Linked DNA regions of Homo sapiens. The protein of the gene in region 1 interacts with the protein of each later gene in a pairwise test. Each region holds a gene or a part of one and is shown on either strand. Other genes may lie near its edges. The genes, in order: MAPT, DOCK2, ANXA6, AATF, ANXA2, DDX21 and TIA1.

The links.
Region 2: the proteins of MAPT (region 1) and DOCK2 interact in binary tests that used the Homo sapiens proteins (3 or more experiments, as listed by UniProt).
Region 3: the proteins of MAPT (region 1) and ANXA6 interact in binary tests that used the Homo sapiens proteins (3 or more experiments, as listed by UniProt).
Region 4: the proteins of MAPT (region 1) and AATF come close enough for resonance energy transfer, tested with the Homo sapiens proteins (one study listed by BioGRID).
Region 5: the proteins of MAPT (region 1) and ANXA2 interact in binary tests that used the Homo sapiens proteins (3 or more experiments, as listed by UniProt).
Region 6: the proteins of MAPT (region 1) and DDX21 interact in binary tests that used the Homo sapiens proteins (3 or more experiments, as listed by UniProt).
Region 7: the proteins of MAPT (region 1) and TIA1 interact in a protein complementation assay, tested with the Homo sapiens proteins (one study listed by BioGRID).

What each region holds. Positions count from the first base shown.
Region 1 is NC_000017.11:45,897,554-45,901,053, reverse strand, and holds part of MAPT (microtubule-associated protein tau), read right to left. Parts: exon of another isoform or gene 2,256-3,500; intron 1-2,255. UniProt on the Homo sapiens protein: Promotes microtubule assembly and stability, and might be involved in the establishment and maintenance of neuronal polarity.
Region 2 is NC_000005.10:170,081,275-170,083,882, reverse strand, and holds the end of DOCK2 (dedicator of cytokinesis protein 2), read right to left. Parts: intron 2,042-2,608; coding exon 1,899-2,041; intron 1,088-1,898; coding exon 1,025-1,087; 3' UTR 501-1,024; downstream 1-500. UniProt on the Homo sapiens protein: Involved in cytoskeletal rearrangements required for lymphocyte migration in response of chemokines. Activates RAC1 and RAC2, but not CDC42, by functioning as a guanine nucleotide exchange factor (GEF), which exchanges bound GDP for free GTP.
Region 3 is NC_000005.10:151,133,780-151,137,279, forward strand, and holds part of ANXA6 (annexin A6), read right to left. Parts: coding exon 3,452-3,500; intron 2,557-3,451; coding exon 2,477-2,556; intron 705-2,476; coding exon 648-704; intron 1-647. UniProt on the Homo sapiens protein: May associate with CD21. May regulate the release of Ca(2+) from intracellular stores.
Region 4 is NC_000017.11:36,951,954-36,955,453, reverse strand, and holds part of AATF (protein AATF), read right to left. Parts: intron 2,569-3,500; coding exon 2,158-2,568; intron 1,685-2,157; coding exon 1,547-1,684; intron 1-1,546. UniProt on the Homo sapiens protein: Part of the small subunit (SSU) processome, first precursor of the small eukaryotic ribosomal subunit.
Region 5 is NC_000015.10:60,352,987-60,356,486, reverse strand, and holds part of ANXA2 (annexin A2), read left to right. Parts: intron 1-488; coding exon 489-568; intron 569-2,273; coding exon 2,274-2,333; intron 2,334-3,500. UniProt on the Homo sapiens protein: Calcium-regulated membrane-binding protein whose affinity for calcium is greatly enhanced by anionic phospholipids. It binds two calcium ions with high affinity. May be involved in heat-stress response.
Region 6 is NC_000010.11:68,980,170-68,982,868, reverse strand, and holds part of DDX21 (nucleolar RNA helicase 2), read right to left. Parts: intron 1,333-2,699; coding exon 1,288-1,332; intron 327-1,287; coding exon 57-326; 3' UTR 1-56.
Region 7 is NC_000002.12:70,245,829-70,249,768, forward strand, and holds the start of TIA1 (cytotoxic granule associated RNA binding protein TIA1), read right to left. Parts: upstream 2,801-3,940; 5' UTR 2,603-2,800; coding exon 2,577-2,602; intron 1-2,576. UniProt on the Homo sapiens protein: RNA-binding protein involved in the regulation of alternative pre-RNA splicing and mRNA translation by binding to uridine-rich (U-rich) RNA sequences.

The DNA.
Region 1 (3,500 bases):
CTATCTTGATCCCTACTCAGTGTAACAATTTATCTGTACAACTGATTCCATCACCAGGATCTTTAGACCCCTCTGGTCATTCAGCCAATCACAAGCACTCATCCACAGGACACCGCCGATGATGCCATTTACTGAGCAGTTACTATGTGCTTGGCCCTAGTGAGTACCGGGTTAGCTTGTGTGAACCCCATGGCAACCCGTGAGACAGGTACCATCATACTCCAAGTTGTGGATGACAAAAAACTCTCCAAGCAGCTAAACAATATGGCTTAGGTCTCACAGTGAGCAGGGAGCTGGGATTTGTGCCCAGGAGGCCCGATCAGAGCCTACCTCCTTAACCATTAGGCCAAACTGCCTCCACATGCAGAACACTGCCCTGCACTGGGGACCTGGGGGAGGGTAACAGTGTCTGCCCTTGAGCTGCTCCCAAACCTTCCTTGAATAGCCTTGGCACAAAATGCATTTCTTGGGGACTCGCTGACATGGTGTTTGGATTTCTATCGGGTCCCTGATTGGGCTCAGCATGGAGCCTGATGAAATATGAAAAAAGCAAAGAAAATTAAGGGACTATACATGGAAGTTGTTCGAGTTTGTATTTTGCTGAAGCCCATTCTATCTGCATGCTTACAGAAAGTTTCCTAACTGGAGAACCCAGAAAGCTCAAAACCTGTCTCAAATTCCTCCTCACACTCAGTTGGGAGCCATCTGGGCAGGCAGGGAACCTGGCAGAGGTGGCAGGAGCATGGCACCTGGAGACAGGAAAGGAATTCTTGGACAGCAAACTCTTTGGCAAGGCAACAGGGGCGAGACAGAGGATTCTCAGGTAGCCCCAAGGTACCACAGTATAATGGAATACTTATTGCAAAGCCTGGGCCCCAGGAAGTGAGAAAAGCCTCCCAGGCCCATCTTTGCCAAAAGATTCTTACAAGAGGACTTGCCTATGCCCACCCAACTCAACCCACACCCACAATCTCAGAGCAGGCCTCATCAGTGGGCGCCAACGCTTTCACCTTGCCGAGGTACAGAACCTAAGCTGGGGATCTGATGTCCCTAAACCTCAGAGACTTGACCTTGGCCACACTGAATCTACGTCTTGATCCCCCAGTCTTGATTTCCAGCCTTCCCTGGGTCAATCAAACCAGCTGCCCCGTCATATGGCAGAGCAGTCCAGAAACCCTGGATTGGGGGAAGAGGTTTAAGGACCTTAGGAAGAGATATTTGCTCTTTGTTTTATAAACAGAGCACCAATGTAGAGTGAAATGCCTTGCTCTCTGTGTCGGGGCCAGATAAGAAATTGAGAGCTTTAACTCCACATCTCCCTAACCTTATTCTGGGTCATGCTCCGATTACAGACTCTTGTAAAAATTCATTTGTGAGACAGTGGTTTTGGAATCAATATTCTACTGGGTCAATGTTATAGATCATATCTGGGTTCCCAGACTAGTCCACAATGGCCAAGTAAACCCACATGTGGCTGAGAGGGGAGGGAACTAGTGTCAGGCAACCAGCTCCACCACCCACTGGCTCTGTGACCTTTAGCAAGTTACTAACCCTCTCTGTGCTTCAGTTTCCCCATCACGGAGATAATAACAGCACCTGCTACATAGCGGAAGTGTTGTGAGGATTAAATGAGATAATCTTAGCAAGCACTTAGAATAGGGCCTCCTAAAAGACACTCAATGAATGTAATTAAGATAGCAGTGCCAGTGTCAACCCCAGCAGTGGTGACATTGGGACTGGGTCATATTTTGATGTAGGAGACTGTCCTGTGCCTTCCTTGTAGGATGTTTAACAGCATTCCTGGCCTCTACCCACAAGATGTCAGTAGCACCCTCCCCGAGTTGTGAAAACAAAAACATCTCTCTAGACATCTCAGTGGCCCCCAGTTGAGAACCATGGTTTTACAGGAAAACAGCTGAGAGTCCCTGCTGGAACATGAGGACTCCTCTCCCTGCTGCAGCCCAGCTGGTGAGGCTGGGGTCTTCTCTTCCCGTCACCTGCTGAGGTGCCCCCCAAACGCCAGCTCCATGTCACTAGTGGAAGCACCTAACTCCTGGGCATGGCAAGTTAGGAGTGGCCAGGGGGGTGTTTCTGGGAGTGTGAGGGGGCTTTGGGGGTCTCTGAACACGGTGATGAGGAAAGTGGTGGTGGAGGAAAGAGCAGAGTCAAACGCAGTTTCCCACCTGCTTCCCACTGTATTTCCCCATTTATCCTTCATGGATAAAATCCATTTGGTATGGACCGAATACCTCTTGTATGTCTAGCACTGTATTAGGCCCCTACGGCTGTTTTTATTTGTTTTTGAGTGATTCTTTTTCAAGGAGGGAGTAAGGAAGATGCTAAATAAATACATCAATAGAAGGCAAGGTCCAGTTGGAAAATTATCACATGTCCAATTGGAAAAATAACACGTGTTCGTACATATAGCCACAGAGCTACTGAAACCACACACATAAATGCTGAGGGAAAGTGGAATAAAACAGTTTCTTTAAATTTTCAACAAATGGACTGTAACAACAGATGTTAAAAAGGCAGAAGGAAAACCACAATCTTATCCCATCTCCAGGCTGGCACCGACCTCCAAGGGCATGAGGGTCAAAGGGCACGTTTAATAGAAAGGCCACTTTTTCCAACCGGAATAAATCTAACCTTTCCTCAATCAAAGCGATTCTAAGTTTTCTAACAATTTATGGGCAGTATCCATTTCTTTTGTTCCTGTCGGAGGAGCAATGCCTGATATTAGAAACCACTTAAAAGTCACGCCCTTCCAGCAGGAACAGTCATGGACTGTCACTCATCCAAAACCCAGCAAAGCCAACAAGCCCCTTCCCCAAATCGTCCAAAGGTGAACCCAAGAGCCAAGCCAGGTTATTGCTATATAAACATCTGTTAGAGAAGCAAACTTGGCCAAGGAATGTATGAGCTTCAAGAGTCACTCCGGACCTGCGTAGCAGGGGTGGGGGCAGGGGATACACTTATCTGTTTATCCATTAATTTGTTTACGTAGAGGGAGGATTTGGAGATGCTTATACAGTAAATATAAGCAGCTTATACAGTAATTATAATACAATGCTTATACAGTAAATACAATGCTTATACAGTAAATATAAGCAGCCATCACAAAACACAAAATGACACCCCAGAATCAACCGCGGTAGGAAAGACATTTCCCTGTCTCCTGTAGGATGGGTCAGTTAAGGGGCCGAGGGGGATCAGATAGAACTCAAATTGGTCCTGCTGAGCCTGGAGCCTGAGCACGCAGAGGGGTGAGCTAGGCAGTCGCTGTCGGAGCCCCCATCATCCCTTCCAGCCTGGACCATTCTGAGACGGAGGTTTGGAGTTACAGGTGTGTGAGCGCCAGAGGGTGAGAGGGGTCACTCGCTCGGAATGTAAGAGCTCCCGCCTGCTGGGAATGGGGAGGAGTCGTCGATGGCCCCAGGATCCGTGCCCAGACATTTCCAGAGGCGCACCGGCTGGTTCAGCACCCCACCGTCATCCGC
Region 2 (2,608 bases), on another chromosome or scaffold:
CTGCTGCCTGACAAAGCTACTCACCTCCTTTGGGCCTCATCTGAAAAACCTGAGAATTCCTCCAAGAAAAGCCACCACTTGGGAGCCGGTGACAAGATCCAAGAGCTGGACCATAAGTCCACTGGACCTCAGACCCCTCTTTTCCTAACTCTTTGGCATTATGTTTGGTCTTTACTAGAGTGACCTGGCTTGGGTGGTCTTGCCATCTCTTTCTAAAGGTGAAGAAAGGAGGTATGACACTCCACTATTCAGATTCGTGAGGAAGACCAGGGCAACTTTTTTAACATGCTGGTAGCCCAGGGTTTGGCACCTAAGGAACAAGAGTCATGGAGATTCTTGAAGAATCTTCTCATAGATGAGGTGGGGAAATTTGGCATTGGGCAAGGGCATCACCAGGCTCCTTCACATCACTGCAGCCCCTGGGCCTGCCTTCCTTCCAGGGAGCTTCCTGCCCAGTCCTGGGCCCAGGAGAGTCAGCCAACAGAATCAGGCAACAAGGCTTATTCGAACCAAGAGAACATTTTTTATTGTCAGTAAGAAACAGCAACTCTTCAGAGATGATTGGCTAGAAAAGAAACTGGTTGGTTGTATAAAAAAATGTAAAGTACAAAACTGTTAATCTAAAATAAAATTAAAAAGAATATTTAAAAGGCTTCCTTTTCTGTTAAGTTCTGAGACTTAATAAATGAGATAAAAACAGTTTCTTACACCTAAGAAACTGGGTTATGAAAGCTGTGCCTAGGATGTTGGGGAGAGCACACTGGGAGAAGGCATTCTTGCTGGTACCTTGAGTTCAGGAATCTACGTTGAGGCTTCCTCATCCACCATGATCACAGCCCCAGGGGATGCTGGGCTTGTTAGCATTCAAGCTCTGGGACCTGATTGGCCTCTCTGTCTCCTCTAAGTAAGGACAACTGATGGGGACAGTCTCCCACTCTCTGAGGCTTCGATGTTCCACGCATGGCTTTCCTCTTCCAGAAACTCCCCTCCCTGGCTCTCCCATGCAGCCCTAGTCAGCAGCAGCTCACAGGTCCGTGGACAGCGAGTCTGGGATCTGTTTGCCTTCTTCAGCCGATTTGCTGGCCAGCTTTTGAGAGAATAAACAAGCACAAAACCAAGATGCGATTATCAGATTAAGCACCAAAATGGAGCTTCCCAGTCCTAATCACAAGGGCCTCAACACTGACCCCTGCCCAAAGCCCAGTGAATGTGAGCTGCTATGCCCTTGGCTTTGGCCAGAAAGGCAGTGGTAGACAGTAGAGTGAGCCCAGGCTCACTAGCCATGTGGACTTGGGCACCTCACTTACCAAACCCTGTGAGCCTCCCATATAAAATCCTAAGAGTGGGAGCTCAAATGGCACCATGCTTGGGAAGTGCTTAGCATGGTGCCTGACTCATCGTGTGCTCATGGTAAACTTGAGATATTTGTAGTAGCAGAGTCCTGATTTCATATTACCTTGAGGATCAGATGTGTTATGGTACCTTCTTGATCTTGAGCAAAGGCCAACAAGTAACAATAGGAGATGGGACTTGCAGAATCAGCGCTTGGAAACTAATGTTCAATTTGTAGGATTTTGTGATATAGGTTGAATAAAAAAGGGCTGGAGCACTAAGGGGCAGTTTAGGCGAGGGTAGGCCACCTACTGCTTCTGAGGTCCCTGGGTCCTGCACATCCCTAGCTGGGGTCAATCCTGGTCAGAGGAGCTGCCTGAGGCCCCAGAGGAGAACTGCCCTCTGGGCATTGCTGCACAGTGTCCCAGAACTCAGGGCCTCCTGACTATGCCTCCCTAGGAATGACCACATATGCACACACAACCCCCCATTTTCTTCTCTCTGCATTGCTCTCTTCCCTTTCTCCTCCCAATGCCTTCCTTTCCTTCCACCCTCAATGTCCTCACCATTGTCTTGAAGAACTGATTGACCTTCTTCCGTGTGAGTGTCTTCTTGTCACCATCTGAGAGTTGGAGGAAGGTCTGGCTGAGGCGGGGAGATGTGTTGGCCTCATCCAACCCAGGGATGCCTGCCACTGAGAGCGCCAGGGCTGGAAGGAGAGCAGAGCTGGGGTGTGAATGGGTGGGTAGAGGAGGGGCAGTGCCTTGGGGGAGGTAGACAGGGGGAGGGCTGGGGGACAGAGCCAGCATCCAGGGATCACACATTGTATGTGCCAAGCAGGAGGCAGGATGCCTATTTCCTGCCGTGCCAGGGGACATTGAAGCTGTCCTCTTGCAGTGAAGATTGCCCACCCTACAGACAAGGGTTCAGCCTCCTGGCTCCTGGTCAAAACCTTGCCCCAAAGCCCTGACATCCCCAGGAAACAGAACCTTCTGCTCCAAGGCAGGGGACAGTGTGAGCTTACTCTTCCTCCAGCTCCCAACACCAACACCCTGGATTTCTCTCCCCATTGCAGGAGACAGCGGGAAGAGAGTCTCAAACCCACGTGTCACCTGGTGGAGGGGCCAGATGACCTAGTGGTTACAGCCCCAGCTTGGCGTCACAGAGACATGAAAAATTAGTTACTCTCTGACTGCTGGTTTTGACATTGGCCAAATGGGAGAAAGAGCCCAGACCGCCAGGGTGTGGTGAGACCTGCTGAGCAGATACCAGTGAA
Region 3 (3,500 bases), on another chromosome or scaffold:
ATTTTTTTCTCAAAGTACTTCCCGATGCCCCCAGGCACAGTTCTATTTCCCTCCTTTCCTCCCTCTCCTAGGCTCCCATAGCTTTCTACTTCTTTATCACTTTGATCTACTGTATATGATAATGATTTCTTCACCTGTCTATCTCCACACTATTGCATGAGCTCCTCAACAACAGGGACTATGTCATAGCATTCTCTGTATCAGCCCCTGTAGTGCTGCTGGCATGTACTGGGTACTCAAAACACCTGCAATGTACAGTATATTGATAGAGAAGGTGTTTGTGTGATTAATGTATGCCTGTCTCTCCCGGTACCACTTGATTTTGTTCATTAGTGATTTCTAAATGCTTGGCAGAGTGCCTAGCACATGCTAGGTATTTTACTTCAATAATATCTAAAAACTGAATGAATAAAGAAAGCTCCAAAGTACACCTCACCAATATACCAATATTACATATGGGATATACCTTTGAAAGATAACTTATATCTTTTCTTCAACAAAGCACCGGTATACATGACAGCTGTGGCTGGGTTATTTCTGGTATTTGATGCAAATGACTTCACCTCCAGCCCTTCCCAGGGCCCCAACCTCTCCCCTCCCAAGGCTCTTCTGCTGTGCCTCAGGGACTTTCAGTGGTGCTTGTTTACCTGGACATCCTGTTGTACCAGGTCCTCGCTCACTACGTCATCCTCCTCCCTGGTTCCCTGGGCAGAAAGACAAAGAACATGTGTTTCAAACACTGCAAAGTCAGGAGGGAGGCCTGGATGCCAGTGGTGGAGACAGGGAAAGCAGGAAAACCCTGGTGGCCCAGATGTGTCCAGAAGCAGTGACTGCTATTGCATGAAGACCACAGTATCTATTTTGTGAGCCAATCAAAAGGGACCCTCCCTCTGGCCTTTCCCTTCCTCGTCAGGGCTGGGTCCACACAGGAGAGTCCCAAGAACAACCAAGGTTCTTCCAGGTGTCCCCAGCCCAGAGGTAGGCAGAGCCTTGCCCTGAGGACCTCTCTGAGGACAGGGCCCCAGGTTCTCGAGGGTCCCTGCCACAGATCCTGCATGGCCCATGACACTCCTCCAGCAACGATTCCACAGGGGCAAAGGATCTGAACATTTGCATTCTATTAGGAGCTCTTATACCTTAACTTAAAGAATTCACCAATAAGGATTTGGGACTCAGGTCCCAAGATCTGAGCTCACAAGCTACAAAGTCACCAAATCCTAATGGTGCTTCTGTTGTTCTGCCCATGCCCTTTGCCTCATCTGATAGAGGAAGCTTACACATAGGAGGATGCACAAAGGGAAGAGGGGCGAGCAGTACTCAACTCCTTCTTACGTGGGCAGAGGTCTGCAGGTGGCCTGGAGAGGTCTATGGCCATCCCCTCTTCCCCCTGGATTGTGCATTCCAGGATCTCAAACCCCCAGGGTTCTCTTTGGGACTGAGCAGAAGACAGAGCTGGCAAGCTTACAATGTGTGCCGCGCTGCTGCTTGGTGTCAAACCTTGAGGATACAAAACGCTTGACTCCAAGATACAGGGATAGGACACTCCTCTCCAGAACAAGCAGCTTTGAAAATGGGGCACAGGTCACACTGTCCCACTCCTGAGGTTTCTCCTGATCATTCCCCAGCTGGTTAATATGGGATTGTTATGGCAATGAGAGGAACAGAGTTGGGAGGAGCTGGTATAAAAGGGAAATGGGGGAACGAGGAAACATAGTGGTGGCTTAATTTATATATAAAGTTTCATAACCATTTGGTCCTTGGAGCTGAGCTTGAGACATCTCAATGCCTGTTCCCATCGTGCCTGTGGTCACAGAGATACCTACAGAGCCAGGTAGATAACATTCACGGTGAAACGGGCAGGACGCATATGCTCTCCAGCCCACTGCAGTCGTGCAGAATGCAGGTCTGCTGCTACCGCAACTTTCAATACATTAAAATAATCCAGAAATCTGGTTTTTGAGCAAAATCTCACAATTTTTAAATGTTAGCAACTAACTCAAACTTGTTTTGCTTTCTTTCTTAAAACACATTTTATGGGAAAACAAACAAAAAATCCAACTTGGCAGGTTGAATTCAGCCACAGACACCAATTTGTAGCCTCCTAATAGTCTCTTTGTGATATACTTTGGGCGGGCGGTGAGGAGGCAATAAGGCTCGGATGTGGGAGACTCCACACAGTAGCCACAGGAATGCTGGGGTCCAGAAATGCTGCATGTGCAGCTGCAGAAGCAATGGCAGGAAGGAGGCCCAGAGAGGAGCGGGAGGAGCGAGTGTGGAGAGAGGAAGAAAATCACAGCAGAAGACACTCCTGGGCACGAGAGGACTGTGTGCCAAAGAGAAAGAGGATTAGCCAAATACACCTGCCTGTGCAAACCAGGGGAAGCTGACCAGACCCTGGACATTCAGATCTACACCCAGATGAGCCAGACAAAAGCTATCCCAAGCTCCAGAGGAAAAAAATAGGCTGTGAACCAACCTGGAGCAGGACCACAAGCATCTTCTGGAAGTGGCCAGAGGTGTCGCCGATGATGTCAGCCTCCAGGTCCCGCTCGTAGGCTGCAGAAAGGAACGCAAGCTCTAGTCTCATCCCCAGAGACCTCAGGGATCTAGGATAAAGGGCCCTGCTGCCCCCAAAATGATCAGATATTTTTAAGAATTCCAAAACCCAGTCTACACGTCCATCATGGCAAGACCCAGGGTATATTTTCACAGCTCTTCGTACTGACCATGATATGATGAAATGGAATCTGTTCATTCTCTCTAGCCCACCTATACCATGACGGCCCACCTGGACAGTGGCTACAGCTTTCCGATGGTTCTCTCCTCCTCTATTCTCAATTCCTTTCCAACCCACGGCAACAAGGATGGCTGTCTTAAAACCCATATCTGATCATCATACTCCCCAACTTCTCATTAGACTCAGAATAAAACACCATCTCTCTCTTGGCCTGCAGGCCCTGTGTGATCCTGCCCTGTCCTCTACCTGTCTAGCCTTGTACCGGCTACCAGGCTCATTTCTATTTCAGGGCCTTTGCACTTGCCGTGACCTCTGTTGGAAGGATCTTCTCTCCATTCTTTATACGATTGGTTCCTCATTTCCTCCCAAGACCTCACTGGTAAAAGTTTGATTCTTGTTACCTTATTTCCTGTACAACACTTAGCTAAAATCCATCATCACTGTGTTTATCTGTTCACCTGTTTATTGTGTGTCTCCTTCATTATCTCATTATCTCATTGGCCTAAGAGAGAGGGACCCCTTTGGTTTTATCCCGAGAACCTAGCACATCACCCAGCACAGAGCAAGTACTTATTGGGTAGATAAATGGGTGGACAAATGGATCAGAGGAAAGGAGGAGAGAAGGTAGATGGCTAGAATCTTAGTGTCCCCACTGTTGCAATCATCCTCATTTTGTATCTGAAGATCCTAAGCGGCCCCTCCTGCCCATCTCACCATCTTTGTATGCTGCCACCAGCTGGTGCATCTGCTCATTGGTCCGGGA
Region 4 (3,500 bases), 8.9 Mb from region 1:
GGGGCGGGGATATAAATGGCCCACCTCACCCACACAGGCCACGTAAGGCTCCTGGGAAGGACTGCCCAGACTTCCCACAGGGGAAGAAGCAGACTTTAAGTGTGGCGGGACACAAAACCCAAAAACTGGACTCTAGGAAGCCATTCCTAATTACATCAGGTATTCACCTACAAGAAACGTTCACTGAACTCCCTACCTGGGAAATCCTACACATTGATCTTGAATGTCTTAAGGCGGTTCTACCTACAGGCAGATGCCAAATTAGATATCCTCCTCAGGTCCCTTCCAACTCTAACTCCATGATACTAAAAAAATAAGTTTTAAAGAGCAAATGAAAACATGAAGTCTCAGCATGCAAGTAAGACATATTGATCTCAGCTGAGCGCAGAGGCTCATGCCTGTAATCCCAACACTTTGGGAGGCCAAGGCCTCCCAAATATATATATAGAGAGATAGATACATAATCTATACATATATATCTATATCTATGGATATAGATATCTCTTTCATGAGGACTCTGAATATCTAGATATAGATATATACAGATCCCAAACACAGCACACTCACCCTAAATCTCCCTCTGCCCCAGTCCTTCAGTGCCACTGGGCACACAGGCAAGCAGCACACAGGAGGCAGTGTGGTGCAGAGGGAAGATTCCTACATCATAAGGTAGAAAAGTTGGAGCCTCATCTCCGCCATACACAAATAAGCTCTGCAACTTTGGGCAAGTCATTCTGGGTCTTAATTCTCTCATGTGTAAAATGAAGACATTGGGAACCAAATAGTCTCTCAATTCCTTTTCCTCTTCTAGAATTCTTTATAGCTCAGTAATTCTCCTCTAAAATGTGTTTCTCCCTCGGCATATCATCTTTCCTCACTCTATGTCACTCAAAGAAAGATATAAATAAGATCATCTTAGCACATTGTTCTAAAAACCTCTCAAACATAGGAAGCATCTTTTAAACACATGATACAACCAAGTTTAATGAGCTGAATTAGACATTCTTTTTCTCCCTTTCTACATCAGTGGGTTTTCAACCAGTGTCCCCTGAGCTTTAAAGAATTAACTCAGGGCCAGGCTCAGTAGGTCACATCTGTAATCCTAGCACTTTGGGAAGCAAAGGTGGGAGGATTGCTTGAGGCCAGGAGTTTGAGACCAGCCTGGACAACACAGTGAGACCCTGTCTCTACAAAATATCCCTCTCTACAGGCAGGGTGGTGCACGCTTGTGGTCCCTGCTACTCGGAAGGCTAAGGTGGGAGGATCACTGAGGTGGGAGGATTGCTTGAGCCCAGGAGGACGAGGCTGCAGTAACCTGTGATCGCGCCACTGTACTTGAGACTCAGCAACAGAGCGAGACTCTGTCTCAAAAAAAAAAAAAAAAAAAAGCAACTTGGAAAGCCAAGGGGGATGGGGAGGGGAGAGCAAGGGCAGATGAGAAGAAAGCACAATAAACATGGCTCAAGCTCCCAGTCCACTTCAATCAAAGCTGTCTTCATTTGACAAAGTGGTTCTAAGTATTCCAACAGGACATAAGTATTCTTACTATTTTTCAGGGCACTGGAAAATTCTGGGCCACCTTTGTCCTTGAACAATGGGAAAACATCTGGTTGAGGAAGCTGGTTGGTGGTCAACAGAGCTTTTTGTAGTTTGATCCTTCCTTCCAAGAGCTGGTCCCACAGTGCTGAAAAGAAGAAAAGAGAATCCCATTCCTCAATAATAAAATATTCTGGGGGTGAGGTGGCAGGGGTGGGGAAGAACAGGAAACCACACCAGTCTCTAAGCACCACAGCTTTAGCAGTTTAATGCCATGGAAACAAATATTCTCTATTAGAGAAAATAAATTCAGTATCCATGAAGCAAGTATTTGCTACAGCAGAGTGGGAATGCTAAAACCCAAGGAGAGGAGAAAACACTCTTCTCTTCAATCTTCCCCAGTTGCAGGAAGTACTAGAGCAGAACCAGCTAAGCAGATCAGTGCAGAAATGGCTGGCTAAGCATACAGGAATAGGGCTTTAGGCTTCTGGGTAAGTGGGGCATGTCACAAACTAATTGAAAGGACACAGGAGATAGAGAATAGCCAAAAACAAACAAATGAAAAGTAGACCAAATGCAGATACTTTGAAAAACAGGCAATCAGCAAAACCATGTACAAACCTATCTGGTTCTTCACGGCTCTTCCTTTCTCCACTTCCTCAGAAACTTTGACACTAGAGAAGGTCATCACCACACCATCATCCTCACTGTTTCTATCTCCAGCCCTGTCTTCCTCACTCTCGCCTTGGGAGTCTTCCGCGTCATCCCCTTCTTCCATGCCACTCTCTTCGTCTTCCTCCTCCTCACTGCTCCCAAGGTCATCCATTCCCTTGGTAAATTTCTCAAAGTCACTGATACTCTGGACACTGAAGCCCGGTGTTTTTGCAGAGTGGCTTCTGCTCTTCTTGCTCTCCCTGTGATCACCACACTCCTGTTCCTCAGCAGCACCCAGGTCGTCCTCATCATATTCCTCCAGACCCAGTCCCTCTGAATCTTCATCTCCAGACCCTTCCTCATCAGATATTTCCTCATCTACAAAGAAGAGAGGGAAGAAAGAGAAAAATGGGTATTACCTGGAGAAAATACCAAGCCATAGACTTCATTTCAACTTAAGCACTGTGGCATCAGGGGGAAAATCTCTTACTGCACTCAATTCAACAATATATTTATTACACATCTACAATCTCCAAAATGCTAAGGGAGAAGCAAAGATGAATAGAACACGGGTCCTACCCTAACAAAAGGAGCTAGTGGGAAAGACAGACTCACAACATTACAACTCAAGGAAGCATCAGAAGTGCTTTGACAAAATTTCAATAACCCAGAAGAGTGAGAAATTTTAACTGTGGGGCAAGTGAATTTAAGCTAATCTCTAAGGAAGAGCTAGCATTTGCTCTGGCCCTTGAAGAACAGTAAGATTTCAACTGGTGTTAGAGAATTACCAGTTTTCCCAAACCTGATCTGAAAAAATGTACAATCTATCACATCCGTCTGCCCTATTTACTAAATACTTATTAAGCACTCATTATGAGCCAGGGGCTAAGGAAAGGCAAATAGAATTTAATACTTGCTGGGAGGAGTTCATGGTCTGGTGGGAGTGGTAGATATGCATGCCAATAATTATATTACAAGGTCATTAGTACACAGTGTATGGAGATGGAACCACCTAACTCTCCTGGAAAGGTGGGGGATGGTATCATGTGGAGAAGGAGACATTATAATTTTACTTATGAAGCATAAGGCAACAGCTCATAGATAATGAAGGGAAAACGCACTGGAGTGCAGGATGCACAAGGAAGTGATGGGAGATGAGACTAATCAGGAAAGGTCTCGTCTTTCATGAGGACTCTGAACTTGATCCTATAGTAGACAGAGTGCTAGTTAAGGCTCTTTGTTTGACTTATGCTTAGAGTATCATCTGATATGTAGAGGTTTTTACAGTTTATCCAATCTGTTCCATGGTA
Region 5 (3,500 bases), on another chromosome or scaffold:
CTACTGTATTTCAATATAGATGCTATTTTGAATATTGAAATATACTTTCATTCAAAAGCATTGTTTAATTCTTAGTAGTTTTTGCCGCTGTGCATTTTCTCAGTGGACAGTAAAGCACAATTGTGTGTGTGTGTGTGCGTGTGTAGACCTCCAATTTTTTTGATGTTCAGAACAAGTACTCACAGTCAGGAGGGCTGGGAGCCAGTATTTAAACTACACGAGAGGTCACCAATCAACGGTGAGCCTGAGGATCCCTGATTTGATCTAGCCCTGCTGCCCCCTGTTATGGATAATAACTCTGGCTCTGATTTCATGAGGGCGAAAATCATTCTAGTGAATCCTTCCTCTGTTTGGGGTTAAGGAGAATGGATATGTCCAGCTGACGTAGCTGTTCTGCTTCTCAGAGTCTTAGTGGGAAATGGGGAGATTGGGGTGGATGGTTGGCTACACAGGCAGAAAGCATAAAACCAGATGTATTTTCCTCCAAGTGTACAAGACTGATCTGGAGAAGGACATTATTTCGGACACATCTGGTGACTTCCGCAAGCTGATGGTTGCCCTGGCAAAGGTTGGTTTCCCAGTTTCTTTCTTTGCCCTTGCTTCCTCCCAAGGCAAGTCACATACCTCATTTTATACTTGGAGTGAATTAACTAAATCCCCTGTGCCTGCATCAGAAATTCAGCTGCATTTTTGAAAGTGGGTTTGCACTGTCACTGCAGAGTTGTCAATTTTGTATAATAGGATTTCTTATCCTGCAAAACCTCATGGACAAGTGGACTTTGGGAGCCAGAGAAGGGATGGGCGGCTCTCAAGTCCTGGCCTGGATTTATGTGCCAGAGCCTTGGCCGTGTGACTTAGGGAAGGTCACTTTGCCTCTATCTGTGGTCATGCAGGACCCAGTGGGAAGTGACCTTCTGGTTTCTTTTTCACTGCGTTTACTTCTCATGGAAGAATTTGCCCATATAGTCCTTTGTCTGGGGTGGAGTTGTCTTTGTGGAGCTGATTGCTAATATTAACACATTAACATGGAGGAAGGGGCATTTCCCCTGTGAATCCCTAGTTCTGGCCAGCGTGTAGCTTAATACTTATGTGCCAGGGGAGGGACGAGAGACCCTGGGAACCCTGATGACAAATGACAGATAGTGCGTCCGGCCCACTCACATCTCCATTACTGCAACAACTCCTATGCCATTCTCCCTCGCTCTCCTCTCTTCGCTACCACCTGCCCCATGTACCACCATCCACGGATCTCTGTGAAATACACTTTCACCATTTTACTCCTCTGTTCAAACCCCATTTCTGCTGCATCAAATTTAAACTCCTAACTGCTGTGAAAGGTCCTCTAAACCCTCCCTGCATCTTCTTTGCTCATCTTTCCCGCTCAGCTCTGCTCTGACAGGGCAGCTCCTTACTTACCTGAGAGCGTGCTGTGCCATCCCTTGTGTGCCAGCTGGCTCTCCCGCTCTGCTTGGCTAGCTGCATCTGACTGACCCTTGAAGTTTCAGCTTAAGCCCAGGCCCATCGTTCACACTCTTTGCTGACTCTGCCCTCTGAGAGTTCTTCCTCCGCCCGCATTTTGTGTCTTTCTAGTGCTGTGGGTTCCCGGGCTGCTTTACATTTGTTTCCACATATTCCTCCATCTGCATTGCAAGCTCTCTGTGAGAAAGAGCTAAATCTCATCAGCTTTTTGTGGGGGATGGGGACAGGGATTCTGTAAGGTGTGTAGGCCAGGACTGGGTATCAAGGGGGGGATTGTTGATGGCAAGGCACAGCCCCCACTTCCTTGCTCAATGATTTTACCACTCCTTGGCTGGTCTAGGTTTCTTTTTCTTTTTCTTTTCTTTCTTTCTTTTTTTTTTTTTTTTTTGAGACAGAGTCTCACTCTGTCACCAGGGTTGGAGTGCAGTGGCGTGATCTCAGATCACAGCAACCTGGTTCAAGCGATTCTCCTGCCTCAGCCTCCCGAGTAGCTGGGACTACAGGCATGTGCCACCACGCCTGGCTAATTTAGTAGAGACAGGGTTTCACCTTGTTAGCCAGGTTGGTCTCCATCTCCTGACCTCGTGATCTGCCCGCCTTGGCTTCCCAAAGTCCTAGGATTACAGGCGTGAGCCACCGTGCCCGGCCCCATCTATGTTTCAAAGTAAGAAAAATCTTACGTGGTTACTTATTTAGGAAATTAAATAATGGCGTACATGGACTGGGGAGAAAACATTTTCAGTTTTAAAATACACAAAGAAATGTATTTGAAGTTCTTTTTCTTTCCCCCATAGGGTAGAAGAGCAGAGGATGGCTCTGTCATTGATTATGAACTGATTGACCAAGATGCTCGGGTAAGTGCTGAGCTTTTTGCTTTGAGTTTTTGTTTTCTGGTAAGTCTCTGGATAGTCTATATAGTAATTTAACTCTGTGTGACAAATGACTCCCAAACTCTGTGGCTTAAAACAACAAACATGTATTATTTCTCAGTTTCTGTGTGTCAGGAATTGAGGAGTAGATTAGCCCAATTGTTCTGGCTCAGGGTCTTTTCTGAGGTTGCAGACAAAATGTTGCATGGCTGCAGTCACCTGAGGGCTTGACTGGGTCAAGGGAATCTGCTTCCAAGATGGTGCACTTCACATGACTGTTGGTAGGAGACCTTAGAATCGCTCCACATATGCCTCTCCATGGGGTTGTTTGAGCGTCCTCACAACATGGCAGCCGGCTTTCCCCAGAGCAAGCAATCTGCAAAGAGGAAGCCACAGTGTCTTTTATGACCTAACCTCAGGAGTCCCACCTTGCACTGCTGTCATACTCTTTTCATTAAAAGTGAGTCACTGAGTCTAGCCCACACTCAGTGGGAGGGGATTAGGCTCTTCCTTTGGAAGGGAGGAACCTCAAAGAATTTCTGGCCGTATTTTAAACCCACCATAGTCTGACAGCAATGTTTATTAGAAGACATTCTCTTATAATGCTGGTGTTACTTACAGAATCAATACGTGACTCACATATGCTCACTCAGGCTTTGCTTGTATGGAAGCATCAGTTTCTGCAGAGTGTAATGTGGCTGTGCATACCAATCAGGCAGGCAGGTGGGAAGCAGAAGAAGGTGGAGGAGACACAGCCAGGGACAGGATGGTGTACTGCTCTGTTGTGGTGGGGGAGAAAGGGAGGCCAGCAGAGACCTGTCCTTTTCTGGCTGAATAAGACTTTTGCCAGTTCTAGTTCCATTATCTCTGAGAACTATTTGTTAAGCTTATTCAGACTGCAATGAACTATATTCTTTACTCAGAGGGACAACGATTATCTCAAAGTAAGTCATAAAAGCTGCAGAAAAAAATTAATTTAAATTAATGTTAGTTTTAAAATTCAATATATTCCACACGGCACTTCTAGCAGGTAGTAGAGAAGGGTTTTAAATAAAGTAATAGAAGTTGGGTTTTGCAGTTCCTAGATGGTGGAAGATCACGGAATGAATATCTACCCTTGCATAAGCCTTTCTTCCTCTTGCCCTCCCTGCC
Region 6 (2,699 bases), on another chromosome or scaffold:
AGTTCTATATTGCCAAACATCATTCTCTTTTTGCTATATAAATCTTCTATTTCTAATTATTGACCAAATGCTTTACTGAAACTCCGCTTCTGGCCTTTGTTTTGGGATCTGTTACTTTTGTTGCCACCTCCTGATCGCTGTCCTCTCGGGCCTCTACTGCCTTCCCGCTGTCCTCTGAATCTTCTGTTTCCGTCCCGCTGTCCCCTGAAGCCTCGACTGCCTTCCCGCTGTCCCCTGAAGCCTCCATATCCTTCCCGTGGTCCTTCCAGTTCTGGTTGCTCTGTGGCCACAGAGAGCTGCCAGCGTCGTGAATCATGCCATTTCTCCTGTTGAGAGAATGTTTTGTTTTTGTGTGCTTTAATTAGTATTCAATTTTTAAAAAGCATGAGAAAAACAAAATATTTGCCACTTCTTCAAAGAAAAGGTGATAACATAAGTGCTTAACAAGTCACTGGTCAAAAATAACACTGGCCACCCATCATGGTCCAAAAGCCAGTGTCCCTGAAGTGTGGGAAAACACAGTTTCATTATGAGAAATAGCCCTCATCACTACTTCATTTATTAAGTTATTAAACCATTTATTCAACTCAATTGCTACAGGGTATCTACAGCCAAAGGTAATAAAACAAATATATTAAGCACACATTTCTCACAGTATTGAATAAAGATGTAACAATTTTAAATGTCTATGAAAACCTGTAGGCTGGACGTGGTGGCTCATGCCTGTAATTCCAGCACTTTGGGAGGTGGGTGGATCACCCGCGGTCAGGAGTTCGAGACCAGCCTGGCCAACATGGCGAAACCCCCGTCTCTACTAAAAATACAAAAAATTAGCTGGGGGTAGTGATGGGCCTATAATCCCAGCTACTTGGGAAGCTGAGGCAAGAGAATCGCTTGAACCCGGGAGGCGGAGGTAGCAGTGAACCGAGATTGCACCACTGCACTCCAGCCTGGGCGACAGAGCGAGACTCTGTCTGAAAACACACACACACATGCACACACACACACACACACACAAAATCTATATACCATATATAAGTGTTAAAGGGTGGGGAGAGCTGGATATCGTTCACAACTTTGTATAAAGGAAATATAGAAACCAGGTGGGTTCAACTACAAAAATATCAGAATTAAAAAGTTAGGGGGGAATATTCCAAAATTTAATTATCGATTATCTCTTACTAAAGGAACCAGAACTATTGTTTCCCAATCTATTATTCTCTATTTTCATAATTAACATTCTACAATTTAGGTATGTTAACTTTAAAATCTAAGGGAAAAGAATACCTGTATTTCTGTTACTGATGCGGTAGGTACATCAAAGCAAACACCCTAGAAATCAAAGCAAATGGAAGTTAATCCAACCAACGCACATGAAAAATACTCCCTTTAAAAGACCACGTATTCTTTAAAAAAAAGAAAACAAAAAACATAAAGCAAAAAAACCACCAGGTATAATTTTAGATGAACTTTAGACCAAAGCTAATACATTATAGCTGCCAAAAGTACACTGCAGAAAGACAAGGAACATTGAAAAAAAGAACCCCAAATGATTTAGAACTTTCTAACTATAGACAGAGTCTTAGCTATTACACTGTGCTAACCCCCTAGTGGCTATTAGCTACATTTTATTGCTGAGCAAACAGGCTTGGAAAGGTTAGCTGACTTGTCTAAGGCCCCACAGCTATTAAATGGCACAAGTATTTAAAATCTAGTCTGTATGGCTCTAAAACCTATAGTCTAAACTATATACTGCCTTCCATCAGAAAAGCAATGCCAGCTATTCAGAATGACCTAATTAAAAGCAGAAAAACAAGTGATCTTCTATTGTTGATTTTCTGGTTTTTCTTAATTCAGCCTTCTGTAAGAGTATGAAAAAAATAATACAGGACACCATCTTTTTTTTTTCCCTCTTAAGATAGGGTCTTGCTCTACTGCCTAGGCTGGAGTGCAGTGGTGCAATTAACAACTCACTGTAACTTTGAATTCCTACAGGTGCATGCCACTACATCTGGCTTTTTTTTTTTTTTTTTTTTGGTAGAGACAGGGTCTCACTACATTACCCAGGCTGGTCTCAAGAATTATCTTCCCAGCTCAGCCTCCCAAAATACTGAGATTACAGGTGTGAGCCATGGCACCTAGCCAGGACACCATCTTTAATATTAAGTGCCATCCTCTCCAATCAAGGAAATCGTCTAAAAATATAGTCAAACTATGTGTTAACTAATACAGGCACTCCTCTCCCTGCTGTCTTCAACTGCAATATTTTATAAGGAACACCCCTTTCACCCCAAAATTTACCCAATCATAACATAGGTATCATCACCTACTGGTGGATTTTGCCATTCATGGGAATCTTCGCTTACATATTTACGAAGTAGAGTATAATCCCAGGCATTCACTGGGTATAGAGGTAATTAGAAAACAGTTTTTGCCTTTGAGTGTTCTTGAGGCTCTCCATTAGCAAACACAGCAAGGTAAAAGTTTACCTGCATAAACATGTGTCCTAAAGACTCTGAAGTACAGATAAAGACGCCCCTAACATTGCCTGGTAAGATTTAAGGCTAAGCAAAGTCATAAAAGCTACTTTGGAGGAAAAGATTTATATATATATAAAATTTTTTTTTTAAGACGGAGTTTCACTCTTGTTGCCCAAGCTGGAGTGTAATGGCGCGATCTCGGCTCACCGCAACCTCTGC
Region 7 (3,940 bases), on another chromosome or scaffold:
TAGGTATGTGGGTGATAAAAATTCAGACTCTATTTTATCCTCAAGAAAGAGTAAAATCTTAATTCACTGCTTGAAATTCTACCAGATTTTTTTTTTTTTTTTTTTTTTTTTTGAGATGGAGCCTCCCTCCTGTTGCACAGGCTGGAGTGCAATGGCGCAACCTCGGCTCACTGCAACCTCCACCTCCCGGGTTCAAGCGATTCTCCTTCCTCAGCCTCCCGAGTAGCTGGGATTACAGGCATGCGCCACCATGCTCAGTTAATTTTTGTATTTGTAGTAGAGACAGGGTTTCGCCATGTTGGCCAGGCTGGTCTTGAACTCCTGCCCTCAAGTGATCCACCCTCCTCAGCCCCCCAAAGTGTTAGGATTATAGGCGTGAGCCACTGTGCCCAGCCAATTATACCAGTTTCTTAAACAAATGTATTGATTACTTACCATGGACCACACTAAGAACATATATTGAGAGGCTGTGTTTTTAATGTGCTAAGAACTCTGCTAAGAACATATATTAAAAGCCTCTGACTTCCAGGGTCATTAAAGCAAAAATCTTACATTAAAATTAAAAACACTATTAGGAAAACTTAGGGATTAGTACCCTCATGTTTGGTCAAGGTTTGCCTGACTAGAAAAATGGGAGTTTGGGTTGAGGGAGGTAGAAACAAGAGAAGACTTTTACAGTATGACTACTTTGAGGAAGAGTTTCTTGGATGGGGTGTATTAGTGAGGGATACAAGGCAAAATAAGTAATAAATGTAATAGTTAAAAGTTGAGGACAGGCCAGGCGCAGTGGCTCACACCTGTAATCCCAGCACTCTGGGAGGCCGAGGTGTGCGGATCACCTGAGGTCAGGAGTTCGAGACCAGCTTGGCCGACATGGTGAAACCCCATCTCTACTAAAAATACAAAAATTAGCCGGGCATGGTGGTGCCCGCATGTAGTGCCAGCTACTTGGGAGGGTGAGGCAGGAGAATCATTTAAACCCAGGAGGTGGAGGTTGCAGTGAGCCGAAATCGCATCACTGCACTCTAGCCTTGCAGCCTGGGTGACAAAGTGAGACTCCATCTCAAAAAATTAAAAAGTAAAAACAAAATTAAAAAGTTAAAAAGTTAAGTGGTCAGATACTTCTGCAGTTTCTAAAATTAAACATTTTCAAACTAATACTGAGAATATTAAGTTTACATTATAAAACACGAGCAGTGCCTTAACCCAAAATGCTGATGACTGTCATAGCTAAGAGGCAAGAGGGAAGAGATTCCACCAACACCGTGAGGCTAGTAGTTTTTTAGGGAGTATTCATCTACAGATACAATCTTTCCTAAAACAAAGGTCATGCACTAATTGCTACGTCCTACTGAAAAGATACTTTCTGAGCCTCAGGAATAGAGAAAAGAAATTTCAAGGTTACTAACAGATTAACTGACAATCTATTAAGAAAACAAGTGTAACCACATTTCCAATATAGACAAGAAATAGCAACTTAAAAGTGGAAAAATTTTGGAGGTAAAAAAACAATTACATCGTACTTCAGAGCAACTTTATTAGAGAGCTGCAAAGAGAAACCTAAAATTGCATTTTTAATGCATGGAGCTCTCAAACTGCCAGTATTCCAAGAATATAAACAAAAAGCTATGTCATCCAAGAAAAACAAAAAGCTATGTCAAGAACTCATTGAGCTTTTCTTCTTCCGAGAAATGCCAACAAAGGCAGGATCAACTCATCCGATAATACCTCGAAAAACAAAGAACGCAGTTGGGGAAGCCACACGACAAAGAAAATATCCACGCTCCGGTAATTTAACGCTATCTCTAAAAATTCTCTGTAAATATGTTAGGGCATTTACAGCCCGCTCGTTCAACACCATGTCAATCACAACAGTAGTAAACGACTATAAAAATAATATTAAATCCATTTCCCCTCAATTGATATATTCCTTCTGGGTGAGATTTCCAAATCCTTGGGGTGTCTGGTTAGGCTTTTTGGTCGGTGGGTGCTACAGAAGGAAAGCCAGAGGTTAAAGAAAAATGCTTGGCTTTTTTCCAATTGGCAACTGCAAGAATAAAGTTTACTGCACTGAAAATGAGTACAAGCACCCTCGAGGAGGAAAAAAAATCTTATCACCGAGAAGAAAATGAAAGGAAGAATTTCAGTAGGAAATCAAAAGTAAAATTAAAGGGAGACGGCTGTAAAGATAAGAAGAGGTTAATCAAAAAGGGGGAGAAGCGGGAAAAGGAAAGAAAGCATAGGACAAAAGGAAGGTTCGACGAGTTCTAAAAAGAGGTCTGAATTAAAGTCTTTTCTCCAGGTCTAAGACCACAGAGGGCCCGTGGCGAGAGCAAAGGTCATGCAATGGTGTTGCTAAAGTGAAGGGATTAATTGAGAGGGTTGAGCCCCGTCTCCCTTCACCTCGTCCTCACAGATTGGGTCTTGGTTGTAAGCATCCAGGTGCATGCTAAGGAAACAAAAACCACGATATCGCGGTGTCCACGGAGAACAATAGGCTGGGAGCGGCGCAGGGCCGAGGCCTTCCCTCCGGGACGACCACCATCCCGCCTCCCTCATCGCTGCCCCAGACTCACAGAGTCTTGGGCATCTCGTCCTCCATGGCTGCTGCTGTCGCGGCGGCGCCTCCAGGTCCAGCTCCCTGCCCTTCACTACCTCCCAAATCGTTTAAGCGGTTATGGCTACAGGATAGTGGGGTTTCTCGGCTGACCAGAGGTTACTCCGCCTCCTCCTCCGGCGGCAATTACACTAAACCGCCCGGCCCAGCGGGAACAATGAAACCCCAATACAAGATGGCGGCGAGCCGGGAGCCTAGGAGCAGCCAGCAAAGTTACCCGGGCCGCGCAGGCGCAGAATAATCTTGCACTCTCAACCTCCGGGCCGCCCGGCTACACCTTAATCCATAGGTTCACTTGTTGCGCAGCCGCTCTTCCACCCGACGCGAGGGACGCCTCAGACTGCGCAGGCGCAAGTATTAACTACTTCACGATTTGCGTGAACTTTTTTGTCTTCTGGCTGCGGATTCGAGTGTTTCGACCGCGAATTATGAGGGAGTGGAAACCTTCAGGGACAGTAAAAAGCCTAAATCTTTCCTCTTTTGGAAAGATATATAAAGACTCTTCAAGCTATCTGGTTTTTAGCGAGCGAGAAGCAAAACGCCTATGCGCCGCCCGGGAATCGAACCCGGGTCGCAAGAATGGGAATCTTGCATGATACCACTACACCAGCGGCGCTGTTGACATGCCCAGCCGCCACAGTATTTTAGGAGGAAATAGAAGCAGACGTTCTCTCATGTGAAAAGAATTGTCATGTATTATTTATTCATTTAAAAGTAAAAGTTTATTGACAGTCTGTAATCTTCTGTTTTCCAATAACATAAATAATTTATCTTTTCTCATCCCAAACATAGGAATGGATGTTTCAACTTTCTCTGTACAGAAAAAAAATTTCAATTTAAAATGTTTACTTAAGAAATAAGAAAAAAGAAAAAAAGTTTTACTTAAAAAAGTAAGGATTTTATTAAGAATTTGCGTCGTTGGTGCTAGCCAGATTTTTCAGCGCGGGGAGGATATTTCCAGATGCCAGATTTTTATTTATATTTGCATTTCTTCCGTGTATTGATTGCACATTGAAAAGCATTTAAGAAATAGCTGTTTAGGCCGGGGGCAGTGGCTCACGCCTGTTATTCCAGCACTTTGGATGGCTGAGGCGGGCGGATCACCTGAGATCAGGAGTTCGAGACCAGCCTGACCAACATGGCGAAACCCTGTCTCTACTAAAAATACAAAAATTAGCTGGATGTGGTGGTGGGGGCCCGTAATCCCAACTACTCAGGAGGCTGAGGCAGGAGAATCCTTGAATCTGGGAGGTGGAGATTGCAGTGAGCCGAGATCTTGCCATTGCACTCCAGCCTGGGCAACAGAACGAGGATCCGTCTCAA